4 linked regions of the Homo sapiens genome follow. The protein of the gene in region 4 purifies or fractionates together with the protein of the main gene of each other region. This does not show direct contact. Each region holds a gene or a part of one and is shown on either strand. Other genes may lie near its edges.

Region 1 (7,444 bases), on a different chromosome or scaffold from region 4:
CAGATCCCTCTCATACTTCCTCACAATCACTATTCCCTTTTCATCCCCCCAAGGTAACCATTGTCCTTACTTCTAACATCCTACAGTAATTTTGTCTGTTTGGGCTTACAGATAAATAGGATCATATAGTAAAAATGCTTGAGTCTGGCTTCTTCCACTTAACATTATGTTTGTGAGATTTGTCCACATTGTAGTTTGTAACTGTAGTTGATTTATTTTCTTTCTGTATAGTATGCTATGAAAACATAATCATATATTCACCCCTTCTGCTCTTACTGGACATTTGGGTTGTGTGCACTTTTGGGGTATCTCTAACAATGACATACACTCTTGTATCTAATTGCACATTCTTTTGGGGGCACATATGCATATACCTCTTTGAAACTATTTGGCCAAGGACAGGCTTAACATCTGTAGATACTACCAAATATTTTTCAGGGGCATAATTTGCAGTCCCATTAGCAGCATATAAATATCACAGTTTTCATTTTTCTACATCTTCTCCAACATCTAAATACAGATGAAGTATTTCTGATGAAAATTTGATGTTGGAATTGGGTAGTGCAGTAAATGCAAAATATATAACGAATTTCAAAGGCTTAGTTTAAAAAAGTAAAATCTCAATTATTTTTTAAAATTGAAGGCATGTTGAAATAATATTTTGGATGTATAGGGTTAAAAATTGCTAAAATAAATTTCACCTGCTTTTTTCACCCTTTTAATGTAGCTACAAGAAAATCCCAAATTATGTGTGGCTTACACAATAGTTCTAATTGGATAGTGCTGCTCTAACACCATCAATACCTAAATTAGTAGAAAACTAAAAAATATGCCTGTTAAAGTATGGATATGTTGGTTGCAAAAACTACAGAATACTCGTTAGAAAAGCTGAGTTAAGTGCTCTATTCCAGCAGAGAATATCCCAATTTAGATACAGATATTGAACACTTGTTCAATATTTGGATCTTTTTTTTTGCAAGACAAAATTGAATGCTAGTCACTTTATAATTTGTGCCTTCTAAAAGGGAAAACCTTAATCCTAAGTTTAAAATAAAATGTGCACTGACTACAGCATGGTAGTAGATTATTTTAGTAACAAGAGATTCAACAAGTCTTCTCGGCTAGTGCTTTAAATCGTATATGCCCTATTATAAAACCGGTGAAACCAGAAAGCAAACCGTCCTCCTCACACTGCCCAAAACAACTGCCAATAGAGCGCATACTCATATGTCAAAGCCAAAACGATGACAGAAGTTTGGTCTTCCTTTCAGCTAAATAGTGTTAACAGGTGGTGGCTGGGTGAAGGCAGGAGAGTGCCTGTTGCTGGCCTTAGGCCTCAGATAAATAAGGAAATGACTGAATGAACAATTTAAAACTACACACACTAGTCAGTGTAACTATCTAGTAAGTTAAATACGCCATGACATCTAATGATGGCCTCTGAGACAGAGAGCAGGCTAGAGCCGGAGCGTTTGACGTGATTACAGCAGAGTGGAGGCGGTTCCTTCCTGGCTATATTAGCTGAAACCCAAAGCAAATCTTGCCCCAGCACAAGGCACCCCTTTCTGCGCCTGTAGTGTGTCAGCTATGTGCATTTTCCTTCAGGATGAGCAAAAATATTTCGTCATCCTCCCCGCTCCTCAACAGCGCAGAAGATGCCGAAAAGCAATTACAGGACCTTACAGAGCTGCTCCGGGGGCCGCGGGAAACTTACCAGCATCCTGGAAAAGACAAAACCAGTGGGGTGCACTTGGCCTCTCCTGGCTGCAGGGTGTGGCCGCCCCCACCTTTCACCTTCCCATCCTTAGGAAGCAAAGTGACCCCTAAGCCTAGACAAAGCTCTCGAAAGCCCAAAGCCTCGGGCCCACCGGCCAGCTCCCCACCCCGCTGCTGGGCCGGACAGGTGTAGGGGAGGCGGACCCGCCCCGCAGCCGACTCACCCAGCTCCAGGGCCTGGTCGCACCTGAGCAGCGCGGCCTCCGGCTGCTGCTGGCGCTGCAGGCTCCGCGCCTGGCCTGCCAGCCTGCGCAGCCGGCACTCGGCCGGGAAGCACTTCTCCAGCAGGCCGCTCAGCACCACGTTCACGCGCCGCACCTGCGGCCGCGCGGGCCCTGGCTCCACGCAGCGCTTGCAGACTGTGAGCCCGCAGGGCAGCGTCACCGGCTTATGCAGCAGCCGCCGGCAGCGCGGGCAGCCGAGCAGGTCGCGGGGCGCGCGGGGCTCCGGGGCCGGCCCTCCCTCGCCGGGCGCCTCGGGCTCGCCGCCCGGGTTCTCCGCGGACAGCGGCCGGTCGCGCAGGCCCACGGCGCGCACCAGGCCGCCCGCCAGCTCTTCCAGCTCCTCCGGCCGCAGCGCCCCGAGCCGCGCGGCGCCGCGGAACGCGCCCAGGGCTTCGGGGAGGCGGCCGGCGCGGGCCAGCGCGTCCCCCAGCCTCAGGCACAGGCCGCGGTCCGGCTGCGCCAGCCCGGCTAGCATGGAGCGAAAGAGCTCGGCTGCCATCTCGTAGTCGCCCGCGCGGAAGGCCTCGTCGCCCTCCTCTAAGCGCTGGGCGATCGGCTCCGCGCGGTCGCAGCCAGGACACTGGGGCGGCGGCGGCGGCGGGACCGGCTCGGGGCTCATCACCGCGGGGCTGCGACGACGCGGGTCCGGAGCGAAGGCGCGGAGCAGGGAGGATGCGCTGCTGCTGGGAACTGGCCGGCGGGAGCGCGGTCTCAGCCCTCGCCAGCAGCCACGCGCGTCTGGGGGCGGCGCGCTGCGAGCGGCTGAGACCGCGGGCGGGGGCGGGCGCCTGGCTTGGGCAGCGTCCTCAGCGCGGTGTGGGCGGCGAGCCCCGCAGGGCTGCAATCGTTCCGGGGTGGGGGCCGGGACAGGCACCGCGGGCGCAATCTGAGCCCCTGCCCACGCGCAGCGGCCTCTCAGTCCCGCCGGCTTAGGTAACCCAGGTCGCTGCGGTAACGCAGTGACCGCGCTCCAGGTCCGCGTCTCTTGCGATGCTTCCCCCACTCGCCTGAGGGCTCCTGCGCGACTGCGCGCGCGTCCTCTGCCTGCCGCCTCCCCGCAGAGGTGCCGGGGCCCTGGGAGCAGGTGGCCTTGGCCGCGGGCTGCTGGCGCGCCGGCACCGCGGCACCTGCTCTTCCCCAGAGGCCTGGCCGCCCCCACAACCTGTGGCTCCGCTTAAGCAAGAACCCAGGAAAAGTCACCAAACGCATCACGCATCTCTAGCTTCGACTTAGGAAATTGTCCTAAATGACTGGGGAGGCTGAAGTGGGCACCCAGAGGCCCCGCCTCAGCGAGCTTCTTCTCTTAACTCTAGGCTGAGGCCTTTGAGAACTCATTTTAACAGAGAACGTGGAGGGCCAAGAGAACCAGATACCAGGAGGAGGAGGGATTCGAGAAGTGGACAATTGTATTGTGCCCTTGATTAGGAAGCAGAAATAGAATTAGAAATAGAATTCTAATTAATAGAATTAGAATAGAAATAGAAAGGGTGCCCTAGTATGGAGTACTGCAGACATAAGTTGCTGGGGAGAGGGAGCTAAACGCTCCGTTGGTGTACAAGCAAGGTTTAAATTAAAATCCTCTGTGCGTATTAACCGGGTTCATAATTTCTCCTATATAGCCTATGTATTTCTCCTATGTAGCCTGCTCCCTTCTTCCTGTCGTCACAGTATCTGTTTTATCCTGTGTATTTGAATACAATAAAATGCATTACAATATTCTAGAATTCATACTACTGTTCATATTTCAAGAATAAATTTTTTTAAAAAATTGGAGAGGTTTTTCTACATCTAAAACTGCTGGCTAAAGAAAATATACAATACCTCGACCACATCTGGCTTTGGGAAAGGAGAAATGCCTCATTAAGTGAGAGAACATTTTAGACCAGTTCCTAAAAGGGAAAAAGGGGCAATTTTTGGCCAGCCCTCTAGTTCTACAATAAACAAATGCAGAGTACCCACCTCCTTTTCCATGAAGGATTTCCCCCAGCTGTCTACCTAACTTAATTGATAACAGTGTACTGTTTGGGTCTCTTTTTCATTACTGAATTATTTCAAATTCACTTTTTCAATCACTGTTTGGATTTTTATCTGCTTTCTTTATAGAATAACAATTCACTTATATTTGAGGGTCATTTATCCATCAAATTCACAACCAACAATCAGGAAGCAATGGGGAAAAAGCTTCAGAGCACAGACCATACAGTAAAGATTGTGAAACCTTATGATCTCAGATCCTATTTGTTCTTATTTTAGACAAATATCTAGCAAGAGAACAGAAAGAAGCTTGCCGGAGGTATGCCTGCTGAGAGCCAGAAGTGTTTAAAGCAAAAATGTTAGTGTGTTGTGAGGTTTATAACACATAGAAATAAAATATATCACAAATATAACACAAAGGCAGGTAGAGGAGAAATGGCAGGATACTGTTGTAAGGTTCTAATGCTATATGTGAAATGGTATAATGTCACTTTAAGAAAGACTGTAATGAGTTAAGGATGTGTCCTCTAACCCTAAAGCAACCTCCTAAATAACACAAAGAGCTATAGTTTAAAAGCCTATAGAGATGAAATGAAATTGTTAAAAAAAACTCTATTAATCCAAAAGAAGGCATAAAAAGAGAGGAAGGAAACAATTAGATAAAACAAATAGAGAACAAATAGCAAGATGGCAGGTTTAAACCCAATTATATCGGTTAATGTTCATTAAATATTGTCTAAATACCATAATTAAAAGGCAAAGATTGTCAAAAGGAAGACCCAGATATATGCTGCCTACCAAAAAAGAACTTTTAAATATGAAAATACAAATAAGGTAAAGGTAAAAGGATGGAAAAAGATGTTCTAGTTAACTCTAAGCAAAATAAATCTAGAGTGACTATATTGATAGCTGACAAAGTCTATTACATAGCCAAGAACATTGCTAGGAGAAAGGACAGCCATTTCATAATGATAAAGGTGTTAGTTGGTCAAGAGGACATAATAGTCCTAACCGCGTGTGTTCCCAATAACAGAGCTTTCAAATATTTGAAGCAAAAACTGATAGAACTGTAAGGTGAAATAGGTAAATTAATAATTATAGTTGGATATTTAAATATCCCTTTTTCACCATAAAAAGAACAAGATCATGTCCTTTGTAAGGACATGGATGGAGCTGGAAGCCGTTATCCTCAGCAAACCAACACAGGAACAGAAAACCAGATGCTGCATATTCTCACTTATGAGTGGGAACTGAACAATGAGAACACATGGACACAGGGAGGGGAACAACACACACTGGGGCCTGTCGGCGGTGGGACCGAGGAAGGGAGAGCATGAAGAAAAATAAGTAATTCATGTGGGGCTTAAAACCTAGGTGATGGTTTGATAGGTGCAGTAAACCACCATGGCACACGTTTACCTATGTAACAAACCTTCACATCCTGCACGTGTACCCCAGAACTTAAAAATAAAACACCCCTCTTTCAACAATTAATACAAGTATACTGAAAATCAGTGAGGCTATAGAAGACTTGAGCAATTCTACAAACCAACTCAATCTGATTGATGTTTATAGAACACTCCACCCAACAATAGCAGAATACACATTCTTTCCAAGTGCACATGGGACATTTACCGATATAGAACATCTTAGAGCCATAAAACAAATCCCAATTTAAAAGTATTCCTTCTAGGGCACTGATACATCAATAAATTGGATCAAATTGAGGACTTCTGCTGTTTTAAAGACACTGCTAAGACATGCTACACACTAGGAGAAAATATTTGCCGATCACATAGCTGATAAAGTACGAACCAAAAATATATAAAGAAATCCAAGAACTCAATAAGAAAATACAGAACTGGATTAAAAAGTGAGTGGAAGATTTGAACAGTCATTTCATTACAGAAGACATATTGATGGCAAATAAGATGCTCAGCATTATGAGCCACTGGGGAAATGCAAATGAAACCCCAAGCAGTTAGTACTGCACACCTAGTGGAATGTCTGTGATTAAAAAGGCTGACCATGCTGAGTGCTGGCAAATACAGGGCATATGCAGAACTCTCACACATTGTCAGTGGGAGTGTACCATGGTGCAGCCACTTTGGACTACAGTTTCTTAAAATGTTAACTGTATACTTATCATATTAACCACCCATTCCACTTCTAGGTATTTATCCAAAAGAAATAAAAGCATATGTCCATTCAAACACTTCTACATGAACCTTCATAGCAGCTTTATTTGTAACAGCCCCAAGCTAGAAATAATTCAAATGTCTTTCAACGGGTGAATGAACAAATTATGATTTCTCTACACAATTGAAAACTACTCAGAAATAAAAAGGAATGAACTATTAATGTATCAAATAACATGTATGAAATTCAAAATAATTATGCTGAGTGAAATAATACAGCAAGATAGAGTACGTATGTATAAATTATTCTATTTATACAAAAATCTTAGGCTGGGTGCGGTGGCACATGCCTGTAATCCCAGCACTTTGAGAGACCAAAGCGGGCAGATTGCTTGAGCCCAGGAGTTCGAGACCAACCTGGGCAACATGGTGAAACCCCTTCTCTACTAAAATTACAAAAAATTAGCCAGGCATGACAGCACATGCCTATAGTCTCAGCTACTCAGGAGGCTGAGGTAGGAGGATCGCCTGAACCCAGGAGGTCAAGGCTGCAGTGAGCTATGATTGCACCACTGCAGCCTGGGCGACAGGAGTGAGACCCTGCCTCAAAAAAAAAAAAAAAAAATCTTGAAAGTATGAGTGAATCTACACTAATAGAATCTACACTACACATGAGTGGTCATGTGGGGATGGGAAGAGGGATTACAAAGATCCATGAGGAAACTTTTAGGGATGATGCATACATTTGTTACCTTGATTGTGGCGATGTTCTCATGGGTGTATTTGTGTGTCAGAACTTATCACAATGTATACTTTTTTATTACAAAAACCATTTTTTATAGAGATGGGGTTTCACTGTGTTGCCCAGGCTGGTCTCGAATTCCTGAGCTCAAGCGATCCATCTGCCTTAGCCTCCCAAAGTGCTGGGATTACACACATGAACCACTGCACCTGGCCTATATACTTTAAATATATGCATCTTATTGTATTGCAATTATACCTCATTGGGGCTGCTTTTAAATATGTGTCGATTTAAAGAGAGGTACTCAAAAATTAAAATTTTAAAAAATATATAGGATGCTTCTAAAGCTATATTTCACAGAAAACTATAGCCTTAAATGCTTGTGTTAAAAAATAATAAAAACTAAAAAGCAATGTGTTAAACATCTAATTCAAAAAGTTGGGGATTAAAAACCAACAGAATAAACCCCAAAAGTAGTAAGAAGACAAAGAGAAGAAACTAGTGAATAGTTCTTATCTTGGTAAAAAGAAGATACAGATATCAACTCAAAAGGTGAGAAAAAGGAGCAAACGGGCAACAAAATGAAACAC
Region 2 (6,850 bases), on a different chromosome or scaffold from region 4:
AAGGTTCCGTGCTTGAGGCTGGGACCTGAAGGATGAGGAGTTGTTAGCAGGTGAAATGGCTGGGGAGTGGGGCAGGAAGAATAAAAGTCATTTTCTCATTCATTTCTTAATTCTTTTATTCATTCATTCAGCAACTGTTCATTGAGAGCAGTTATGCCCATTTCCCTGATGAGGAAATAGAGCCTCAGAGAGGTAAAGTGACTTAGATACAAACCTTAGCCAATCTCTTGTCTTAAAAGCCCACCTTTTTCCACTCCCCACTCTTGCCTCCAAAAACAGTCTGGACAGGTTAGACACACCGCTGTGACTTTGAGGGTCAAGGGGAGGTACCCTGCCAAAAAACAAAAACCTAATTATCCTTGTTTAGTGAGAGGAGGCTGGCGTCCCCCACAGGGATGTTCCTTTGTCTGTTGGAACTCTTCCGCTGCCTTGAGGACCCACCTTTAGCCCCCTTTGGATCTTGAATGGGGGAGCCAGCCTGCCAGTGTCTGGGGTTAAGGGGAGGAGACCACTGAATTCATTGTCTGGGCCAGGGAGGACCTACCATTGGAAAGGGAATGGGACCAGAATTCCAGACCAGGCTTTGATACCAATTATTCAGGAGACCTGGGTCAGTCCTTACCTCTCTGTGGTCCTCAGTTTTCTGGTCCCTGAAACAAGAAATCTGGGCTGGCTGTATCCTGAACTATAGGACTTCTGGCCTCAGATGCCTCCAGATTGATATGGGCTGGAAGTAGGGTGACACATTTGTTCTGATTTGCTCGTTCTGATTTACTTTCCAGGTTTTAGCATCAAGAGAAACCTTCTCAGTTCCTGATAAATTGGGATGGTTGGTCACCCTAGCTGGAGGACTGTTAGGTTAACCTAACCTCACATTTTACCCACAAAGAGCAAGACACGCAGCACCCGCCTTTATTCCTATGTGGCCACGAAGCTATTTTCAAGCCATTTTGTTTGCACATATCATGTTTCTAGGGTTCAGCTGAAAACCCTCTCAGGTCCAGCTACCACTTCCCTCAATTCCTTCAGATCTTCTGGGCTCTGCTTGGCCATCTCCTTTTCCCCCCTCTGCACCCACTCCCATGCCTCAGGATGGTCTTTTTTGGTTGTCTCCATCAGCTCCCCTGGAGCCCCTTTAGCTCCTTCCTCTGCATTTAATGCAGGATTTGTGCCGAAGCAGGTGCTCCACAAGTCATCACGGAAAGTCTGAATATCTCCAGGGCCCAGGGCAGGGCTGCCCCCACCCTCAAGGAGGGCTGCACACCCCAATTCCAGGGCAACTTTGTTGGAAGGACAGATCCTTCCTGGAAGAGGTTGCAGGGAGCCACTCCCCAGGTGTGACTTCTTAACCCTTTCTCTTCCATGGGACCACTCAGGCATTGGGTGGAGCCTGTGGACCCCTTCTGAGAATAATTTTTTTAAAAAGGCATTAGGATTACTATGAAAAGTCATTTTACTAAAAATAGATATCAAACTATTAACAATTTCTCATATAGTAACATACGTTCTCTTTTACTAATACATTAAATAAGATTTAGTGGTCGGTCTAATATGACTTTAATTTCACAGTTCTCGTAGCTTAGATGATATCTTGAGATGTTTACAATAACTGTAGTGTGTTACATAAATACCTGTGATTTCTACTAGTGACAAAATCACAGGGACATCTACTTGCTGCCTACATTCATAATCAAAGGATATGTTAAAAACCATTGGCTGGGCACGGTGGCTTACGTCTGTAATCCCAGAACTTCGGGAGGTCAAGGTGGGCGGATCACCTGAGGTTGGGGGTTCAAGACCAGCCTGACCAACATAGAGAAACCCCCATCTCTACTAAGAATACAAAAAAATTAGCCGGGTGTGGTGGCGCATGCCTGTAATCCCAGCTACTTGGGAGGCTGAGGCAGGATAATCTCTTGAACCCCGGAGGTGGAGGTTGTGATGAGCCAAGATCGCACCATTGCACTCTAGCCTGGGCAACAAGAGTGAAACTCTGTTTCAAACAAACAAATAAACAAACAGACAACAAAGCCTTTAGAGATTAGTGAGGCTAAAGGTATAACTTTTGTCCACCCCTGTGTCATGGACCCCCCAGAATTCTATCCTCAGTCCTCTTGGGGGTCCATGAACCTCTGCTTCAAGGCAAAGGGGTTTTGATTCCTTAGGTTAGATAAACAAGAACATCATCAAGAGACGAGAGAACGAAGAGTAAAGGGCAGTGTCCAGACTGGGTTGGGTTAAGCAGAGAAAGGTTTCTAGATGAGTGAGTTTCAGAGCTGGGTGTTTAAGGTGAGTCCGTGTTGGCAGGAAGCAAGGAACTGTGGTTGAGGGAAGGAACTATGGGGAAGGTTTGCTTTTGTGGCTAAATCAAAAACACAGCAGACTAACATCACAGCCACATCACTCCAGGGCAAGCCCGTGTCTCCTTTGTCACCAAGAACACCAAGGCATTGTCCATGTAAGACAGTGTGCCTGTCCTCAAGCTTACATACAAAGAGACAAAACAAACACAAAAGTTAATAACAAGACAAAAATTAAACTGCTAGTAAAAAATGCAGTCGGAAGTATCTGAAACATGCCACATATCTGGTTAAGTGCATACAATGCAAGCCACAGGCGTTCAAAGGTGGGGGTTCAAGGTGGGGGTCACCTCCCCTCTGAGGTTTGCGGTGAGGACCAAATGCGGAAATGGACACGAGGCCCGAGGCCAGCATTGTGGAAGGCCGGTTAGAGCATGCACTTTGGACCATTGTGGCTACTTAACGTCTCAGTGACCTTCTCTGTAAAATGGGGATAATAAATAAGTATGGCGCCTGACATATACTAATGTTTGCAACACGGTTCAGGAGACACCAGAGACTGGAGAACTTGGCCTTTAACGTGGTAGGTGTGAAAACATTTGAATGAATGAATGAATGAATGAATGGGTCCTCGGGTTGCCTCGGTCTGCCCCAGGCGGCCCGCTAAGCCCCATGTCTGTGAAATGAATCCCCAGCTCTCGGGGTCAGCTTCATCTCAGCGTGTGGGTGTGGGTGGTGGGGAGGTGCTGAGCAGCTCAGCAGAGGCGAGGCCCAGGCCGAGTTTGTGGGTGTCATCCCGGGAGGGTCTTGCTCGGCCTCCCCAACCCCCATGCTGCTCGGCTCCTCAGTGGGCGGGGGAACCAGCGGGCTTAGCTGTGCCCGGGCCGATCTCGAGAGGACAAGGCCCGCAGCTAGCATTCGAGGAGCCCACCCCCGGGTCCGCAGCGTGGGGCACGGGCGCCCTCTTATCCCCGAAAGGTCGATCTGGGCCTCCCCAGGCTAGAGTGGGGGTGGGGTGCCGATGCACCTTCGGATACTGTGGTCCCCCAGCCCTTCCAGCCGCGGTCGCGCACATCCGAAGGAATTTGGGGCCAGGGGCATTGCGGGCAGAGAGGACAGAGAAACGGAGCCCTCTCGGCAGGCGACGTGGGAGAGGAGCGCCCTAAAAAGTGGAAAGCGAGCGTTGCCGAGGCTGCTGGCCCCTTTAAGAGGCCCGGCTGGCTCTGCGGCGGTTCCAGCTAACCCGGTCCCTGGTGCAGCTCTGCGGTCCGGGTCCCCCAGCAGAGAATCGGCACCCGGCGGGGAGGCAGGACCAGACGCAGGAGAGGGCGTGGCCCCGCCGGGGAGCTGGGCGGAGTCTATGCTGCGGAGAAAGCGGGAGAACCCGGAGGTGGGCGGAGCCGAGGGTCTGTGGGTGGGGCCCGGCGCTGCGGGCCTCGTGGGGCGGAGCCTCGGGCTCGGGGAACGCCGCAGAGGGAGGAGGGGTGGGCGGGGCCGCGGCGGGGGCGGGGCCAGTGTCTGCAGTGGGCGGGGCCCGCCGCAGAAGGGGCAGTGCCGGCCGAGAGTCCTCTGCGTGCGGCTGCCGCGGCCCCTCCACAGCGTCTCTGACAGCCCGGGCGGTGAGACCCGCGACCCTTCTGGCCCCGCGCAGATACCGCGGCCTCCACCGCGTCCCGAGGAGCGGCCGAGTGCCCTCTCTCGCCTCGGCGCCCGCATCCGGGGCCATCCGTCCTGCCGTCTCTGCGGAGGCCGCATCTGGCGCGCATCTGGAACCGCCCGGCCGGCCGCGCTGGAGCCCGCGCCCACCCTGGCCCGGCCGCGCCGGGAGCCCTGCCCGGAGCTGGAGCCGCACCTGGAGCCGCGGGCCCGGGGCCCTGAGCCGCGCAGCCGGCGCATGGTGAACTCGCTGCTGTTCGGGGAGATGGCCTTGGCCTTCGGCTGCCCGCCGGGCGGCGGCGGCGGGGGCTGCCCTGGCGGGGGCGGCGGCGGCGGCGGGGCAGGGCCGGGTCCGTCGCCGGTGACGGCGGCGCTGCGGGACGACCTGGGCTCCAACATCCACCTCTTGAAGGGGCTCAACGTGCGCTTCCGCTGCTTCCTGGCTAAGGTGCACGAGCTGGAGCGGCGCAACCGGCTGCTGGAGAAGCAGCTGGAGCAGCAGCAGAGCGAGCGCGAGCGGCGGCTGCGCTACAAGACCTTCTCCCGCGAGCAGGCCGTGCAGACCGGGCCCGAGTTGCTGCGGCCCCCGGCGCCCGGCGGCGGGCACGGCCTCAGCAGTGGCGCGGCGGCCGGCGCCAACGCCAATGCCGTGGCCCTGGGCGGCCTGCCCCCCGGCGGCGGCTCGCACCCGCAGCACTACGGCCGCCTGCCCGGGACCATCTGGAGCTACACGCAGGTGCGGCGCACGGGCGGCGGCGGCGTGGAGACCGTGCAGGGCCCCGGCGTGTCGTGGGTGCACCCCGACGGCGTGGGCGTGCAGATCGACACCATCACGCCGGAGATCCGCGCGCTCTACAACGTGCTGGCCAAGGTGAAGCGCGAGCGCGACGAGTATAAGCGGAGGTGAGTGGCCGCCCCTCCCCCGCCGCCCTGGGACGGGGCGCCCAGGTCCAGGCTGCCGCGGAATGCGTATGCGGGACGGGGGCCGGGCGGGCAGCTGGTACTGGCAGGTGGGCTGGAAGCTGTGTTTGCAGAGCGTCTTACGTACGCCAGGAAGGCCCAGTTATCTAGATCCCAGGATGGGGGCGGGCGCTGGCTACCGTGGGGGCCACCTCGATGCTGTCACTGGTGAGGCACATTGTTTTCTAGGTGACATAATAACTGTCTGTGTTTTATGCGATCTCATTTAATTCTCAGCACAATACAGCGTATTGTGTAAGGCAGTCTTATCCTCATCTCGCAGATGAGGAAACCGAGGTGCAGAAATGCTAAGTGATTTGCCTAAGGTGGCTTGGCGAGTAAGTGGTGAAACCGGGATTTCAACCAGAGATTTTAACCACTCCTGGCTAGTCTGTCTCCTAGCATAAGTATTTTTACCAAGGAAGTAGGAAATATGCTCCCCTCCCTCAACATATGAAAAGAAAAACTCTAACCAACCCACTGCCTTTTTATTTCTTGAATTAAATGAGATCACGTTTTTGAAAATGGATGGATCTGCCCCTACCCCCTGGGGCCAGTGTCTGCCGTCTTGCTCCAGCTCTGTAAGGTCCAGCTTGCTGGGTTGGATAACCACAACTACAACAGACTGCTCACAAGCTTTTATAAAATGCCTCCTTTCATCCCTCTTCTCCCCACTCCCTGAGTCTCATGGTTTATTGAGCCCTAACAAACTCAGCCTTAAAAGCCCCCAGGAGAAGATAATGTTGGGCTGGAGACTGGACATTGAATGGACTGAGACCACAATCTCTGGCTAGAACTGGGGTCCAGACTCTGCAAGACTGGCCAGTGCATTCCTGCCTAGCCCAGATTCCCCAGCTGGGAAACTGTCATTGCTTCCTGTCTGCAGTCTGGCCGACAATACTGTCTGCTTGGCTTTCCGATAAGAGGAGAGGGGTCTCCTATCCTCCTCCTCTTCCCATAAGAGAAGAAGGGTCTGTCTTTGGCATCTCAGGCCTGGCTGGGGAAGGGGCCCTCTGGCCCTGGCAATCGCTGTTCCAGGCACAGGCAGCCTTCCATTCGGAGCTATTGGCTCTGAACTCCAGGGCTTGGAGGATGTACTGAGAAGGACCCTTCCTTCCATCTCTAAAGGTCTGTCCAGGGAGCTGGGCATAGGTCTCCTTCCGTATTCTCCCATTGGACAGGCTAGCAACTGGGTAGGATTCAAATGCCAGCCTTATACCTGCTGGTGAGATTATCAAATCACTTGAAAGCCTGTTTGCTCATCAGAGAAATGGGAATAATAAAATCTGCCCACAGTTGCTCGAGGAGACAGCAGGATGGTGATGCTCTTTGGGAGGTATAAAGTAATCATGCTGGTGTTATTAAAGATGATAGGCACTTTGTCAAGCTAGCAGGGAGTAGAAATGCTGAGAGTCCTCAAGCTCTCTCATGTGGCGCCTAGCTTCCTGGGGGTAGGTCTTACACTCCACTGGGAGACGGGCTTCTCTCCTGGGTTACCTGTTTCTCTGGAGGACTTGAGAATGGCCCGCCTGGTGCCTTGCCACAGGGAGGCCACCTCGCCGCCCCTCATGGTCAATGTCATTGGGGCAGGCTAGGGAAGCAGGCACTTGCTCTCAATGGTGAAACTGGGGAGGGATGGGCCGGGCCCTCCTGTCTGCCACTGTTGATTGTGTTGTCATGCCTCAGGCTTGTGTTGTGTTTGTTTTATTGTGTGTGTGCTTTTTGGACCTGGCTACTAAGGTGATGGAAAAACCGTGCCCAGTCTTGGAGGGAGATGGGTTGGCATTGAGCAACGATCTATTCAAGTTGCACCCAGGGCGTGGGGTGTGATGTCAGCTTCTGGCGCTGGCCTGGAATGAGACGGTGCTGCTGAGACAGGTGGAGTGCGGGCGTCTCTCTTCCCGCCCTTCTGGGATGCGTGCACACCTTGTCTT
Region 3 (7,027 bases), about 43 Mb from region 4:
TTCAAGTGATTCTCCTGCTTCAGCCTCCCAAGTAGCTGGGATTACAGGCACCTGCCACCATGCCCGGCTAATTTTTGTATTTTTAGTAAAGATGGGGTTTCACCATGTTGGCCAGGCTCGTCTTGAACTCCTGACCCCAAGTGATCCACCTGCCTCAGCTTCTCAAGTGCTGGGATTATAGACGTGAGCCACCGCGCCCAGCCTTAGCTGTACTTTGAAGGAGAGGCAGAATTGGGAAGAACTTGATGGGAGAGAGGGAGTGATGGTCACAGTTGGAGAAATTGTGTCTCATTCATAAATCACATCTCAAACTTTATGTGACATAAGCTGTGCTCTTTACCCCCAAAACCTGATGTTTCCCTTCAAGTCTTCTTCATCCCAGTAATTATACTTCATCTACCTACCTATTTAAGCCAGAGAGCGGGAAGTTATCCTGAGTTCTTTAATTCTCTTCATTTCCTGCATCTGTGTGTCCTGTCAATTCTACTCCCAAAACAGACCGTGAATCCACTTGCTGTTTCCCTTGTTACCACTGCAATCTTTTTTTTTTTTTTTTTTTTGAGATGGAGTGTCACTTTGTTGCCCAGGCTGGAGTGCAATGGCGTGATCTCAGCTCACTGCAACCTCTGCCTCCTGGGTTCAAGCGATTCTCCTGCCTCAGCCTCCTGACTAGCTGGGATTACAGGCGCACACCACCATGCCCAGCTAATTTTTGTATTTTTAGTAGAGACGGGGTTTCACCATGTTGCCCAGGCTGGTCTCGAACTCCTGACCTTGTGATCTGCCCGCCTCAGCCTCCCAAAGTGTTGGGATTACAGGTGTGAGCCACCACGCCCAGCCTCCTGCCATCCTTTTAGGTAAAGTAACTTACCCATTTCCCCTCCAATCTTGCTGTTTTTCTCTGTCTCAGCTTCCTTTTTATTTCCTTTGTCTTTAAAACCCTGATGGCAATTTGTAATTATTTGTTGGCAATTTGTAATTATTTGTTGCCTTTTCTTCTCCTCTGTGCCTTCCAGTAGATATTTGCTCCATGAATGCCTTGCTTCTTATTTTGGCTCCAGTGCCTGGCCATATCACAGTTTTGATGTGATCAAAAGTCTTCTTTGATATGATTGTAATTTGTTCTTTTACAGCACACATCCAATACTGTGTTATAAACATGAATTTATGCTTTGAATCAGACACAAAAATTGCATTCTTTTCTTAGATTCCTGCTCCAAAACGAGGAGAAATAGTAAGACAGATTGGCGATGCCTTGCGGGAGAAGATCCAAGTACTAGGAAGCTTGGTAAAGTATTTTTGTAGTATATACACAATTCTTTGAGTGGACAATAAGGCTGTCATGCTTTTCTATATATAAAATTGTGAGGTTTTTTTTTTTTGAGATGGAGTCTTGCTGTCACCCAGGCTGGAGTGCAGTGGTAAAATCTTGGCTCACTGCAGCCTCTGCCTCCCATGTTCCAGCAATTCCCCTGCCTGAGCCTCCCGAGTAGCTGGGATTACAGGCTTGTGCCACCACGGCTGGCTAATTTTTTGTATTTTTAAAGTAGACATGGGGTTTCATCATGTTGGCCAGGCTGGTCTTGAACTCCTAACCTCAGGTGATCCTGCCTGCCTCGGCCTCTCAAAGTGCTGGGATTATAGGCATGGGCCACCACACTTGGCTAGAAGAGTTTTTAAGAAAAGTAATTTATATTATATTATATTTTATTATTTATTTATTTATTTATTTATTTTTGAGATGGAGTCTTGCTCTTATTGCCCAGGCTGGAGTGCAATGGCAGGATCTTGGCTCACTGCAACCTCCCCCTCCTGGGTTCAAGCGATTCTCCTGCCTCAGCCTCCCGAGTAGCTGGGATTACAGGTGTGCACCACCATGCCCGGCTGATTTTTGTATTTTTAGTAGAGACAAAGTTTCACCATGTTGGCCAGGCTGGTCTTGAACTCCTGACCTCAGGTGATCCGCCCGCCTTGGCCTCCCAAAGTGCTGGGATTATAGGCATGAGCCACTGTGCCCGGTTGTACTTTATATATTTTAAAAATTCTTTCCTTAGAGGAAAGATTAACAAGGTAGACAGGAAAAAGTGAAGGCAATTGTTGTGTTTTAAAATTCTTTGGAAAATGAAACAGACTTTCTTCAGTTTATTACATTTACAAAACATGTTTTGCTTCCCCCTTTCTTTAATTTAATGTTTATAATGTGAATTCTGTTGGAAAAATTCTGCTTGTCGTTTTATATTTCTAGGTGTCTTTGGAGATGGGGAAAATCTTAGTGGAAGGTGTGGGTGAAGTTCAGGAGTATGTGGATATCTGTGACTATGCTGTTGGTTTATCAAGGATGATTGGAGGACCTATCTTGCCTTCTGAAAGTAAGCAATGAAATTAGTTAAGCTGAGTTTTGTACTCTGATATACAGAGCTCCAAAAAAAATAAAATACTCTGGCTATTGACTGTGCAAAAGAGAAATTTCAAGTGGCATAAATATGTGAAAATATCCTCAATCTTTCAAAGAAATGCAAATTAAAACAGATGAAAATGTTAGATCAAGAACCTTTTTGTTTTAAAGATAAAACTTAATGTTGGCAAGTCCACGGGTAAGACACTTTTAACTCATCTGTAAAACGATTTGGAAATATACCCAAAGAGCTCTAACTTTAAAGAGCCCAGTTTTAAGAATCTAAGTAAATAATCTGAAATAAGACAGAAGTTATGTTTAAAGAAGTTCATTGTGGCATCAATAAAAAACATTAGAAATGACCTAAATGTCGAATCATAAGGGGAAAAAATCTAAGCCAATTTTGGTAGACTATTAGCATGTACTAAAAATAATGTTTGTGAAGGTTGTCTTCCCCTAACCCACACTTTTACGGGAGGATTTTATTTACTTATTTTTAAATTATACTAATGTTAATTTTTTTTGAAGAAACGATAGATTCATATCAGAAAATAAGAAAGCAATAAAAGGTTGAAGGATTAAAAGTTTCCCTCCTACCCCCATGACTAAGCCATAGTACCCCATGGAAGTAGTGAATGCTTTCAATTTCTTGTGTGTCTTTTTTATATTTTGTAGGATCTTGCTGTGTTGTTCAGGCTGGTCTCAAACTTCTCTCCTCAAGTGATCCTCCCCTTCAGCCTCCCGAGTAGCTGGGATTATAGGCATGAGCCACCTTCCTAGGCCCTTGTGTATCTTTTTAGAGCACGTACAGCCAAATATGTAGCAAACTATACATTTTTTTTTTTTTGAGATGGAGTCTCGCTCTGTTGCCCAGGCTGGAGTGCAGTGGCGCGATCTTGGCTCACTGCAACCTCCACCTCCCGGGTTCAAGCGATTCTTCTGCCTCAGACTCCTGAGTAGCTGGGATTACAGGTGTGCACCATCACACCCGGCTAATTTTTGTATTTTTGGTAGAGATGGGGTTTCACCATCCTGGCCAGGCTGCTCTTGAACTCCTCACCTCATGATCCACCCACCTTGGCCTCCCAGAGTGCTGGGATTACAGGCGTGAGCCACTGTGCCCGGCCGCAAACTGTACGTTCTGTTTTATACTTTTATATTCAATAATATATCTTGGAAATTGTTTTTTTGTTTTCTTTTTTTGAGACAGGATTTTACTGTCTTGCCCAGGCCAGAATGTAGTGGCATGATCACAGTTCACTGCAGCCTCAACATCCCCGGGATCAGGTGATCCTCCTACCTCAGCTAGGACTGTAGGTGCATGCCACCATACCTGGCTATTTTTTTTTTTTTGTAGAGGTGGGGTTTTGCAGTGTTGCCCAGCTGGTCTCGAACTCCGGGGCTCAGGTGATCTGCCTGTCTCAACCTCCCAAAGTGTTAGGATTGCAGGCGTGAGCCACTGTGTCAGGCTGGAAATTGTTTTCGTATTATTCTATTAAGGGGCTTCCTTCATCTGTGTTTGCAGCTATCTATTTTGTTATAAAGAGACTATAATTTATTTAGTCAGCTTCCAAATGATGTATATGTAGGGCTGTTTTCAGTGTTTTGCTATTACAAGCTGTTCTGTAAGAACCAATCTTATACTCTGAGGTTTTAACAATGAAGATACTAAGATGACAGCAAGAGTAAGAAAAAAAAAAAAGCTGGACAAGATGGCTCACACCTGTAATCCCAGCACTTCAGGAGGCCAAGGTGGGCAGATCACCTGAGGTCGGGAGTTAGAGACCATCCTGGCCAACATGGAGAAACCCCATTTCCACTAAAAATACAAAATTAGTGAGGCATGGTGGCGCATGCCTGTAATCCCAGCTACTCGGGAGGCTGAGGCAGGAGAATCGCTTGAACCCGGGAGGCGGAGGTGGCGGTGAGCCGAGATCGTGCCATTGCACTGCAGCCTGGACAACAAGAGCGAAACTCCATCTCAAAAAAAAAAAAAAATGAGGTTAAGAGTGTAAGCAATTTGTGATGTTTGCAATGTGGATAGAGCAAAACAGGTGACTGTATGTCTGCATTGGCAATGGTGGGATAGAAGTGTATGCTAAAGTGGTAGCAGTGGTTATCTCTGTGGCAGAATTACTAGTAGTGGATTTTCTTCTATTTTTCTGCATTTTCTAAATTTCCATGATGGTTATTAGGTTACATTTATAATAAGGAAATAATATTTTTTAAAAAATCATATTTTTCTCTTTTTCTTGGAATATTGAGTAAATTCCCTACTTGTAGAAAGAGTTGGGGGAGTCTTTTTAAGTCTAATTAAGGACACTTAATGTCCTTAATTAGATATCTAGCAATGATTCCCATTATCCAATATTAATTTTATGTCATTGAACACTTTCAAGAGTTTTTTTCTAGCTAAGAAAAGTTAATAGGCCCACCGTGGTGGCTCACGCCTGTAATCCCAGCACTTTGGGAGGCAGAGGTGGGCGGATCACTTAAGGTCGGGAGTTTAAGACCAGCCTGACCAACATGGAAAAACCCCATCTCTAATAAAAATACGGATTAGCTGGGCATGGTGGCACATTCCTGTAATCCCAGCTACTCGGGAGGCTGAGGCAGGAGAATCACTTGAACCTGGGAAGCGGAGGTTGCAGTGAGCCGAGATCACGCCATTGTTCTCCAACCTGGGCAACAGAAGAAAACTCTGTCTCAACAACAACAGCAATAACAACAATACAGTCAATAAACCTCCAATTTGGGGATATGTACATGTGCAAGCAGGTAACTATTTGATTTATACCTACTATGATGCCTGCCTCACAATTAACAATTAAAATTTTTCTCAATTGCTTGCACATTTTCGTTTGTTTATTTGAGATAGGATCTGTCACCCAGGCTGGAGTGCAGTGGTGTGATTATAGCCCCTTGCAGCTTGGACCTCCTGGACTCAAGCAATCTTTCCACCTCAGCCTCCTGAGTAGCTGGGATTACAGGCACATGCCACCAAGCCCAGCTAATTTAAAAATTTTTCTTGTAGAGACGAGGTTGCACTATGTGGCCTAGGCTGGTCTAGAACTCCTTGGCTCAAATAATCCTCCTGCCTTGGCCACTCAAAGTGTTGGGATTGTAGGCATGAGCCACCACACCTAGCTTACACTTCTATTTTTTTTTTTAAAGCAGTTTACTCATTTATGTAGAGACTTTGGGGTAACTTTGGCTTTATTAATTCAATAAATGCTTATGGAGCATCTATCAGGTGCCGGGTAGTCTACTAGGTGATACTCGAGCTATAAGGCATAGTCCCTGTCCTCAAGGGATTTATAAGCTTATAAATTATACCTTAGAGTGGGAGATAAATAAACAGGTAATTATATCCAGCATAATCCAGCATGGTAAGTAATATGAGGGAGTAAACGGTAGGATGGTGGGCACATAGCTGGGATCCCCTAACCCAGCCTCATGAGTGCAGTCCAGGAAGGCCTCCAAGAGAAGGTTAGCCAAGGTAAGGTCCCAAATGGGACAAAGAGGAGAAGGAGTGGAGTGCTGGAAGTTGTTTTAAAGAAGGAAGAAGCCTGTGTGAAGGCTGAGAGGGTCTGGCTTATTTGGGAGGATTGCATTGCTTCAGCACAGCTGGAGGGTGCAGTGGTAGGGCAGATAGAGTGGAAAGAGAACCTCGGGAAGAGATTTTGTCTGACAAGGAGATTGGACTTTATTCTGAGAATAGCTACAGTAGGTATCCAAAATCCACAGGGTTATAAGCAAGGGGGTGACATCAGGGCAGAGATGGGAGGGCTGGAGAGGAGGAGGCAGGCCCTGCCAGGAAGAGGCAGGCCCTGCCAGGAAGAGGCTGTGCCAGCACTTCATCTCTAGGGATTAAGGTGCCCAGATTAAGGAGGGCCCAGGAGTGAGGTGCTGTGTCTGGTATGGTCCCTCATCCTAGCTAGCAGTGTGAGTGTGGCTAGAAAGACTGATGGCTGGGACAGCCACCTTTCCAGTTGGTCTGTGGTTTTAACTGGGATTTGTGAACCATCGTATTCGTGTGGTATGGTTCTATACTGTCCAGCTGCCTTTAATTAAAATAAACACCTTGTAGGATTATGGGTGACTTTAAAGTTTGTAAGTTTGTATTTAAAATACAATATTTTTGTTTGTTTTTTCTTTTCTTTTCTTTCTTTTTTTTTTTTTTTTTGATACAGGGTCTTACTCTGTTGTCCAGGCTGGAGTGCAGTGGTGCAATCCCAGGTCACTTCAGCCTCAATACCCTGGGCTCAAGCAGTTCTCCTCAGCCTCCCAAGTAGCTGGGACTACAGGCATATAACCAATCACACCTAACTAATTTTTAATTTTTTTTGTAGAGTCAGGGGTCTTGCCATGTTGATCCAAGTCTCAAACTGAGCTCAAGTGATTCTCCCGTCCCAGCATCCCAAAGTGCTGGACATTGTAGGCATGAGCCACTGCTCCTAGCTGATTTGTATTTTTAGTTTCTTATAGTGAATGTAAAGATTTGCGTAATTCATTTTATTTATTTATTTATTTTTTGAGGCGGAGTCTCCCTCTGTTGCCCAGGCTGGAGTGTAATGGCAGGATCTCGGCTCACTGCAACCTCTGCCTCCCGGGGTCAAGTGATTCTCCTGC
Region 4 (7,027 bases):
TTTTTAAGATAAAAAGACACACTTGAAAACATTAGGTAAAGTAAATGTTTAACTTAAAGCTTTCTGAGAGCAGGAGTAACACTTATATTTGTTCTATTTTCCTAACACAGTGAGCTGTTCATAGTGTATAATCAACAAGTACAGTATTGATTAAATAAACAAAACTGTATGTTGAAGTATAAGATACAGATATTAGGTACTGTAAATGACCAGAGGAAATAAAAATTACAAATATGAAATGAAATAGGAACATGGAAAAAAAGTAAGTCCTTGTGGAAGGTTTAGAATTTAAACAGAGCTGTAACTAATGGCTATAATTTCATTAAGAACACCCAAGTTTCTAATTATTTGTTTCTCTCACTTTCCATTAAAACTTTAGATACAGGTTCTCTGAGTTGTTTACTTCAAATTATACCTCTAAGCGTGATTTCTTGGAGAAGGCATGTTCATGAAAAAAATATGATAAATATGCTAAGATATATGTATAAGGATACTAATTGTCTAGTTTATAAGGGCATTTAAAAATTGAACCAACCCAAACCTCTATCAGTGAACTAATAGTACATCAAAATTAAAATCAATGATGAATGTAGATCTAAATTTTTCAACATGAAAATACATCTCTAATATATTATAGAGTAAAAATATCAAGCTGCAAAACTATAAATGTGTAGAATGATCACATTTTTGTAAAAAAAAGGCTGTGAATGTACAAGTAATGCAAAATAGGATAGTAGACATTTGTATTCGTCTTTTTTCACACTGCTATAAAGACATGTCTGAGACTGGGTAATTTATAAAGAAAAGAGGTTTAATTGGCTCACAGTTCTGTAGGGTGTGCAGGCTTATGCTGCTGGGGAGGCCTCAGGAAACTTACAATCATGGTGGAAGGCAAAAGGGAAGCAGACACATCTTCACATGACTGGCAGGAGAGAGAGAGCAAAAGGGGAAGTGCTACACACTTTTAAACAATGAGATCTCATGAGAACTCACACACTATCGTGAGAACAGCAAGGGGGATGTCTGCCCCCATGATCCAGTCACTTCCCACCAGGCCACTCCTCCAACATTGGGGATTACACTTCAACATGAGATTTGGGTGCAGACACAAAGCCAAACCATATCATGCCATCCCTGGCCCCTCCCACATCCCCTTCTCACATTTCAAAACATGATCATGCATTGCCAAGAGTCCCCCAAAATCTTAACTCATTCCAGTGTTAACTCAAAAGTTCAAGTCCAAGGTCTCATGTGAGACAAGGCAAGTCTCTTCGACCTACGAGCCTATAAAATCAAAACCAAGCTAGTTTCTTCCAAGATACAATGGGATTACAAGCATTGGGTAAGTTCTCCTATTCTAAGTGAGAGAAATTGGCTAAAACAAAGGGGCTACAGGCCCCATGCAAGTCCGAAAACCAGCATGGCAGTCATTAAATCTAAAAGCTCCCAGATAATCTCCTTTGACTCCATGTCTCACATCCAGGGCACAGTGATGCAAGGGGTAGACTCCTAAGTCCTTGGGAAACTCTGCCCCTGTGGCTCTCCAGGGTACAGCCCCCATGGCTGCTTTCATAGGCTGGTATTGAGTGCCTGCAGCTTTTCCAGATGCATGGCGCAAGCTGATGATGGATCTGCCATTCTGTGGTCTGGAGGATGGTGGCTGTCTTCTCACAGTTCCATTAGGCAGTGTCCCTTTGAGGGCTCCAACCACACATTTTCTTTCTATCCACACTGCCCTAGTAGAGGTTCTCCAAGAGGACTCTACCCCTGCAGCAGACTTCTGCCTGGACATCCATGCATTTCCATACATCCACTGAAACCTAGGTGGAGGTTCTCAAGCCTCAGCTCTTGCACTCTGCACATCTGCAGGCTTAACACCACATGGAAGACACCAAGGCTTGAGGCTTGCACCCTCTGAAGCAATGGCCCAAGCTGCATGTTGGCCCCTTTTAGCCACAGCTGGAGCGGGAGCAGCCACAATGCAGGGTGCCATGTCCCAAGACTGCACAGTGTAGCAGGGCCCTTGGGCTGGCCCACAAAACCATTCTGCCCTCCTAGGCCTCCTGGCCTGTGATGGGAGGGGCTGCCATGAAGATCTCTGAAATGCCTTGGAGGCACTGTCTTGATTATTAACATTTGGCTCCTGTTTACTTGCGCAAATTTCTGCAGCCTTGAATTCCTCCCCAGAAAATGGGTTTTTCTTTTCTACCATATGGCTAGGCTGCAAAATTTTCAAACTTTAATATTCTGCTTTCCTTTTAAATATAAGTTCCAATTTCAGGTCATTTCTTTGTTCATACAGATGAGAGTAGGCTTTTAGAAGCAGCAGGCCACACCTTGAATGCTTTGCTGCTTAGAAATTTCTTCCACCAGAAAAGCATAGCAAGAGTGACCTCTACTCCAGTTCCCAATAACTTCCTTATCTCCATCTGAGACCACCTCAGCCTGGACTTTATTGTCCATATCACCATCAGCATTTTGGTCACAACAATTTAACAAGTCTCTAGGAAGTTCCAAACTTTCCCTCATCTTCCTATCTTCTTCCAACCCCTCCAAACTGTTCCAACCTCTACTTATTACCCAGTTCCAAAGTTGCTTCTATATTTTCAGATACCTTTATAGCAATGCCCCACTTCTCTGGTTACACACATACTATCACAAGAATAGCAAGGGAGAAGTCCACCCCCGTGATCCAATCACCTCCCAACAGGCCCCTCCTCCAACATTGAGGATTACAGTTCAAAAAGAGATTCAGGTGGGGACACAAAGCCAAACCATATCAACATTTTTGTGTTCTTTTTTATGCTTTTCAGAATTTACAAAAAGTCTAACAATAAACATTTACTACCTGTAAAAATAATAAAACTTTTTTAAGAGTTGTGGAGAGAGTTCTAAATTTACTCTATTGACTTGCCATAGATATAAAAGCTCAATGATCTCCATTCGGGACAACTTTTACTGAGTACCTGTTATGACTAGGCACTATGAACAGGGGTCAAAATCTATTTCTTAAGCCCCTCATGACATCAGAAGGAAATGTAAATTATAAGTGGAGCACCAGGAATCTATTTATCCTTCAGTCTGGTCACTTCAGAGTGGTCCTTTGGTCATATGCTGATTTTTTTAAAACAAAATTGATAGATCTCTGTGTTCTGGTTCACAGTATCTAAACAATGGACACAATTACAGAGATCTTTCCATGTCTGACTTTTTAAATATGATTTCAGCTTTTATTTTAGATACAGGGGGTACATGTGCGGGTTTGTTACAGGGGTGTATTGCATGATACTGAGGTTTAGGATAGGGATCTCATCACCCAAGTATTGAGCATAGTACCCAATAGGTAGTTTTTCAACCCATGACCCCTCCTTCCCTTCCCCATGTAGTAATCCCCAGTGTCTATTGTTTCCATCTTTATGTCCATGTATACCCAATGTTTAGCTCTCACTTATAAGTGAGAACACAGGTATTTGGTGTTCTGTTCCTGCATTAATTTGCTCTGAATTATGGCCTCCAGCTGCATCCATGTTGCTGCAAAGGACATTATTTCATTCTTTTTGGTGGCTGTGTAGTATTCCATAGTGTATATGTAATATATTTTCTTTACCCAGTCCACCAATTATGGCCACCTAGGTTGATTCCATGTCTTTGCTGTTGTGAATAGTGCTGCAATGAACATGCCAGTGCATGTGTCTTTTTGGCAGAACACTTTGGGTTTTTTGGGAGGTATATGCCCAGTAACGGGATTGCTGGATTGGATGATAGTTATGTTTTAAGTCCTTTGACAAATCTCCAAACTACTTTCCACTGTGGCTGAAGTCATTTACATTCCCACCAACAATGTATAAGTGTCCCCTTTTCTCTGCAGCCTCTCCAGCATATATTATTATTTGACTTTTTAATAACAGGCATTCTGATTGGTGTTAGATGGTATCTCATTGTGGCTTTGATTTGCATTTCTCTGATGACTAGTGATGTGTAGCATTTTTTTTTCATATGTTTGTTGGTTGCTTGTGTGTCTTCTCTTGAGAAGTGTCTGTTCATGTCCTTTGCCCATTTATTAATGGGGTGATTTGCTTTTTGCTTGTTGATTTAAGTTCCATATAGATTCTGGATATTAGACTTTTGACAGATGCATATTTTGAGGATATTTTCTCCTATTCTGTAAGCTGACTCTTTACTTTGTTGATAGTTTCTTTTGCTGTGTAGAAACTCTTCAGTTTAATTAGGTCCCTCTTGTCAATTTTTGTTTTTGTTGCAGTTGCTTTTGGGGACTTGGCCAAAAATTCTTTGCCAAGGACAGTGTTGAGAAGGGTATTTCCTAGGTTTTCTTCTAAGTTTTTTATAGTTTGAAATCTTACATTTAAATTTTTAAGCCATCTTGAGTTAATGTTTGTATATGTTGAAAGGTAGGGCAATATGGTTTGGATTGGTGTCCCCACCCAAATCTCATGTCTAATTGTAATCCTCAATCTTGAAGAAGGGGCCTGGTGGGAGGTTATTGGATCCTGGAGACAGATTTCCCCCTTGCCATTCTCATGATAGTGAGTGAGTTCTCATGAGATCTGGTTTAAAAATGTGTGGCATCTTACCCCCCGCTTCCTCCTTCTCCGGCCATGTAAGACGGGCCTGCTTCCCTTTCACCTTCTACCGTGAGGCTTCTCAGCCATGTTTCCTGTACAGCCTGTGGAACTGTGAGCCAATTAAACCTCTTTTCTTTATAAATTACCCAGTCTCAGGTAGTTCTTTATAGCAATACAAGAATGGACTAATACATAGGGGCACAGTTTCAATCTTCTGCAAATGGCTAGCCAGTTTTCCATGCACCATTTATTGTATTCACCTTGCTTGTTTTTCCATTTCTTACTTTTAATTGAGATAGTTCAGTTATCTCTTTTGTCTAGGAGGAGCACAAGCAACTCTAAGACATTTTGGCCAGAGAAAAATGTTTAACGTGTTTTGAGTTGACAATGAAAATGTATATATATAATAATTATACTTTTATCCCATACTATATCATTTTCTCCTCCTTTGGAATATATTTTTAGATATTTAATTCCATGTTACAATAATTATGCCTGTATTTATTGTTAATTTTAACATCGCAAATCCCAGAGGGTAGTACTTGTCATCTTGAATGCATTAATGCCTAGCACCTTGGCACTCCTGTGATGATGTTGTCTGAAATTGGCTTGCTCAGAATAAGACAGAACATGTCCCAGGTCTAGTGGCAGCCAACTGTAGTTAATTGTCTCTAATCAAGATGCCAAGGAGAACTCATTTCTAATAATCTGTGCAACTAGGTAAGGGTGCAGGCTTTTAAAAATACTCATCACCTAAACACACTTGATATTTGGGGGTTTTCATTGGTTATTCTTCTCTGCTGTTAACGAAACTCTTACATAGTTTATGGGGTATTAGCAGGTAATAATAATAGTTTCCAAATTCTTTGTGGGAATTTACAAGCATTTACATTTACATCAACTCATTTCATCTTTAGACCACCTCTAGACAAATACTAATATCTCAGTTTTACAGTGGACAGAATAGAAGCCCACTTAGTTTAAATGACTTGCCTAAAGTTACATAGCTAACATGAAATAGACCTGGGTTCAAACTTGTGTTTCCTGACTTCAAGTCCCATGCTTTCTCAGCTATACCAAGGTGTTGTGACTCTACCCCCGCCTTTGAACTTGGAAATAGAGGGGTATTACCAAGTATTACTGGGTTAGCTCAACCTAATCATAATTGCCCCAGAGGCCACCTCTAATTGATAATATTAAGCATACTTTATTAAGGTTCCATAGAGAACCACTGACAAGGTTTCTACAAGGATATTAACACACACTCCACAGCTTTACTTCTGATTGAGCTCTGTTATTCTCTGGCACAGTCTTCCTAAGACCAATTAATAGTGATCATGGCAGTCAGCCTGTTATCTTAGGATTCAAAGAAAATATCTACATAAATATAGCAGTCAATCCATTGAAGTAGTGACTACAATACTGAACCTGAATAAAATTTAGTTTACTAAATGAAGATATGCAGATTCAATAAATGATTATGGACCAACATTTCATCAGCAACTGCTATAAATGTGAAAAATCATTATTTTTCATATATACACATGATCATCAGACCCACTAAAGGTAATTCATGTGACCAAAACTTTCTGCTGCTAAGAGATTAAAATGCATGTTAATCAGTAGAATTTAAGAAAGCCAGAGTAAAATGTAAATTGTGATGAAATCATTAAAGGAGTAACTTGAAAAACCTTCTATATCCTGGCATAAAAGTGATTATAGCACAGAGGACAGAATATTTTATTTCTTGACCTTGATTATGAGTATTGTTATAGGTTCTTGAATTTTCCTTAGGTCAGAATAGAGACATTAATTCTAAAGCAGTTAGAGAAATTAGTCTCTTTATCTCTTTCCTTATAGTTAATAGCATAGAGAAATAAATCTCTAAACCAATTTGAAACAGGATTTAACTGTCATTTCACTTATGTGTCTCTTCATTTTCTTTTACTCTATAACAGAAGTTTTTAAAAATAAAACTATTTTGATTTTCTTTTCAGTTCTAGGCCTGATTCTTCACTACCTGAGACGTCTAAAAAGGAGCACATCTCAGCTGAAAACATGTCTTTAGAAACTCTGAGAAACAGCAGCCCAGAAGACCTCTTTGATGAGATTTAACAGTCTCAAAAAATACTTTGATGTTCACTAGACTATGTTTTCTATTCATTTCTTTAAAATGAAAAAGGAGAATTTCAAGTCAGCAGCCGCTATTACCGTATCTTACAATTTAATTACATACACAGTGAATTGAAACCATTGTGCAAAATGGATTACACATGTATACAAAGATACGATTTGATGATGACACTGGCACATTATTCTAAACTATTCATTCAGCATGCCTATAATTACATAAATTGTATGAGACTTTTTGTTGCAAAGGACACATTTATCATATTCATTCACACATATTATATGTGATAGCTGTCCAACATCCTGTCTGGGAA

What was found.
Region 1: the proteins of XRCC4 (region 4) and LONRF2 purify together in Homo sapiens (affinity purification with mass spectrometry; 3 studies listed by BioGRID and IntAct, with this or other methods). This does not show direct contact.
Region 2: the proteins of XRCC4 (region 4) and IFFO2 purify together in Homo sapiens (affinity purification with mass spectrometry; 4 studies listed by BioGRID and IntAct, with this or other methods). This does not show direct contact.
Region 3: the proteins of XRCC4 (region 4) and ALDH7A1 purify together in Homo sapiens (affinity purification with mass spectrometry; 3 studies listed by BioGRID and IntAct, with this or other methods). This does not show direct contact.

What each region holds. Positions count from the first base shown.
Region 1 is NC_000002.12:100,319,475-100,326,918, forward strand, and holds the start of LONRF2 (LON peptidase N-terminal domain and RING finger protein 2), read right to left. Parts: upstream 3,028-7,444; 5' UTR 2,620-3,027; coding exon 1,941-2,619; intron 1,908-1,940; exon of another isoform or gene 1,715-1,907; intron 1-1,714.
Region 2 is NC_000001.11:18,953,677-18,960,526, reverse strand, and holds the start of IFFO2 (intermediate filament family orphan 2), read left to right. Parts: upstream 1-3,850; 5' UTR 3,851-4,194; coding exon 4,195-4,859; intron 4,860-6,850.
Region 3 is NC_000005.10:126,578,193-126,585,219, reverse strand, and holds part of ALDH7A1 (alpha-aminoadipic semialdehyde dehydrogenase isoform 1 precursor), read left to right. Parts: intron 1-1,207; coding exon 1,208-1,288; intron 1,289-2,245; coding exon 2,246-2,369; intron 2,370-7,027.
Region 4 is NC_000005.10:83,346,545-83,353,571, forward strand, and holds part of XRCC4 (DNA repair protein XRCC4), read left to right. Parts: intron 1-6,580; coding exon of another isoform or gene 6,581-6,586; coding exon 6,587-6,698; 3' UTR 6,699-7,027.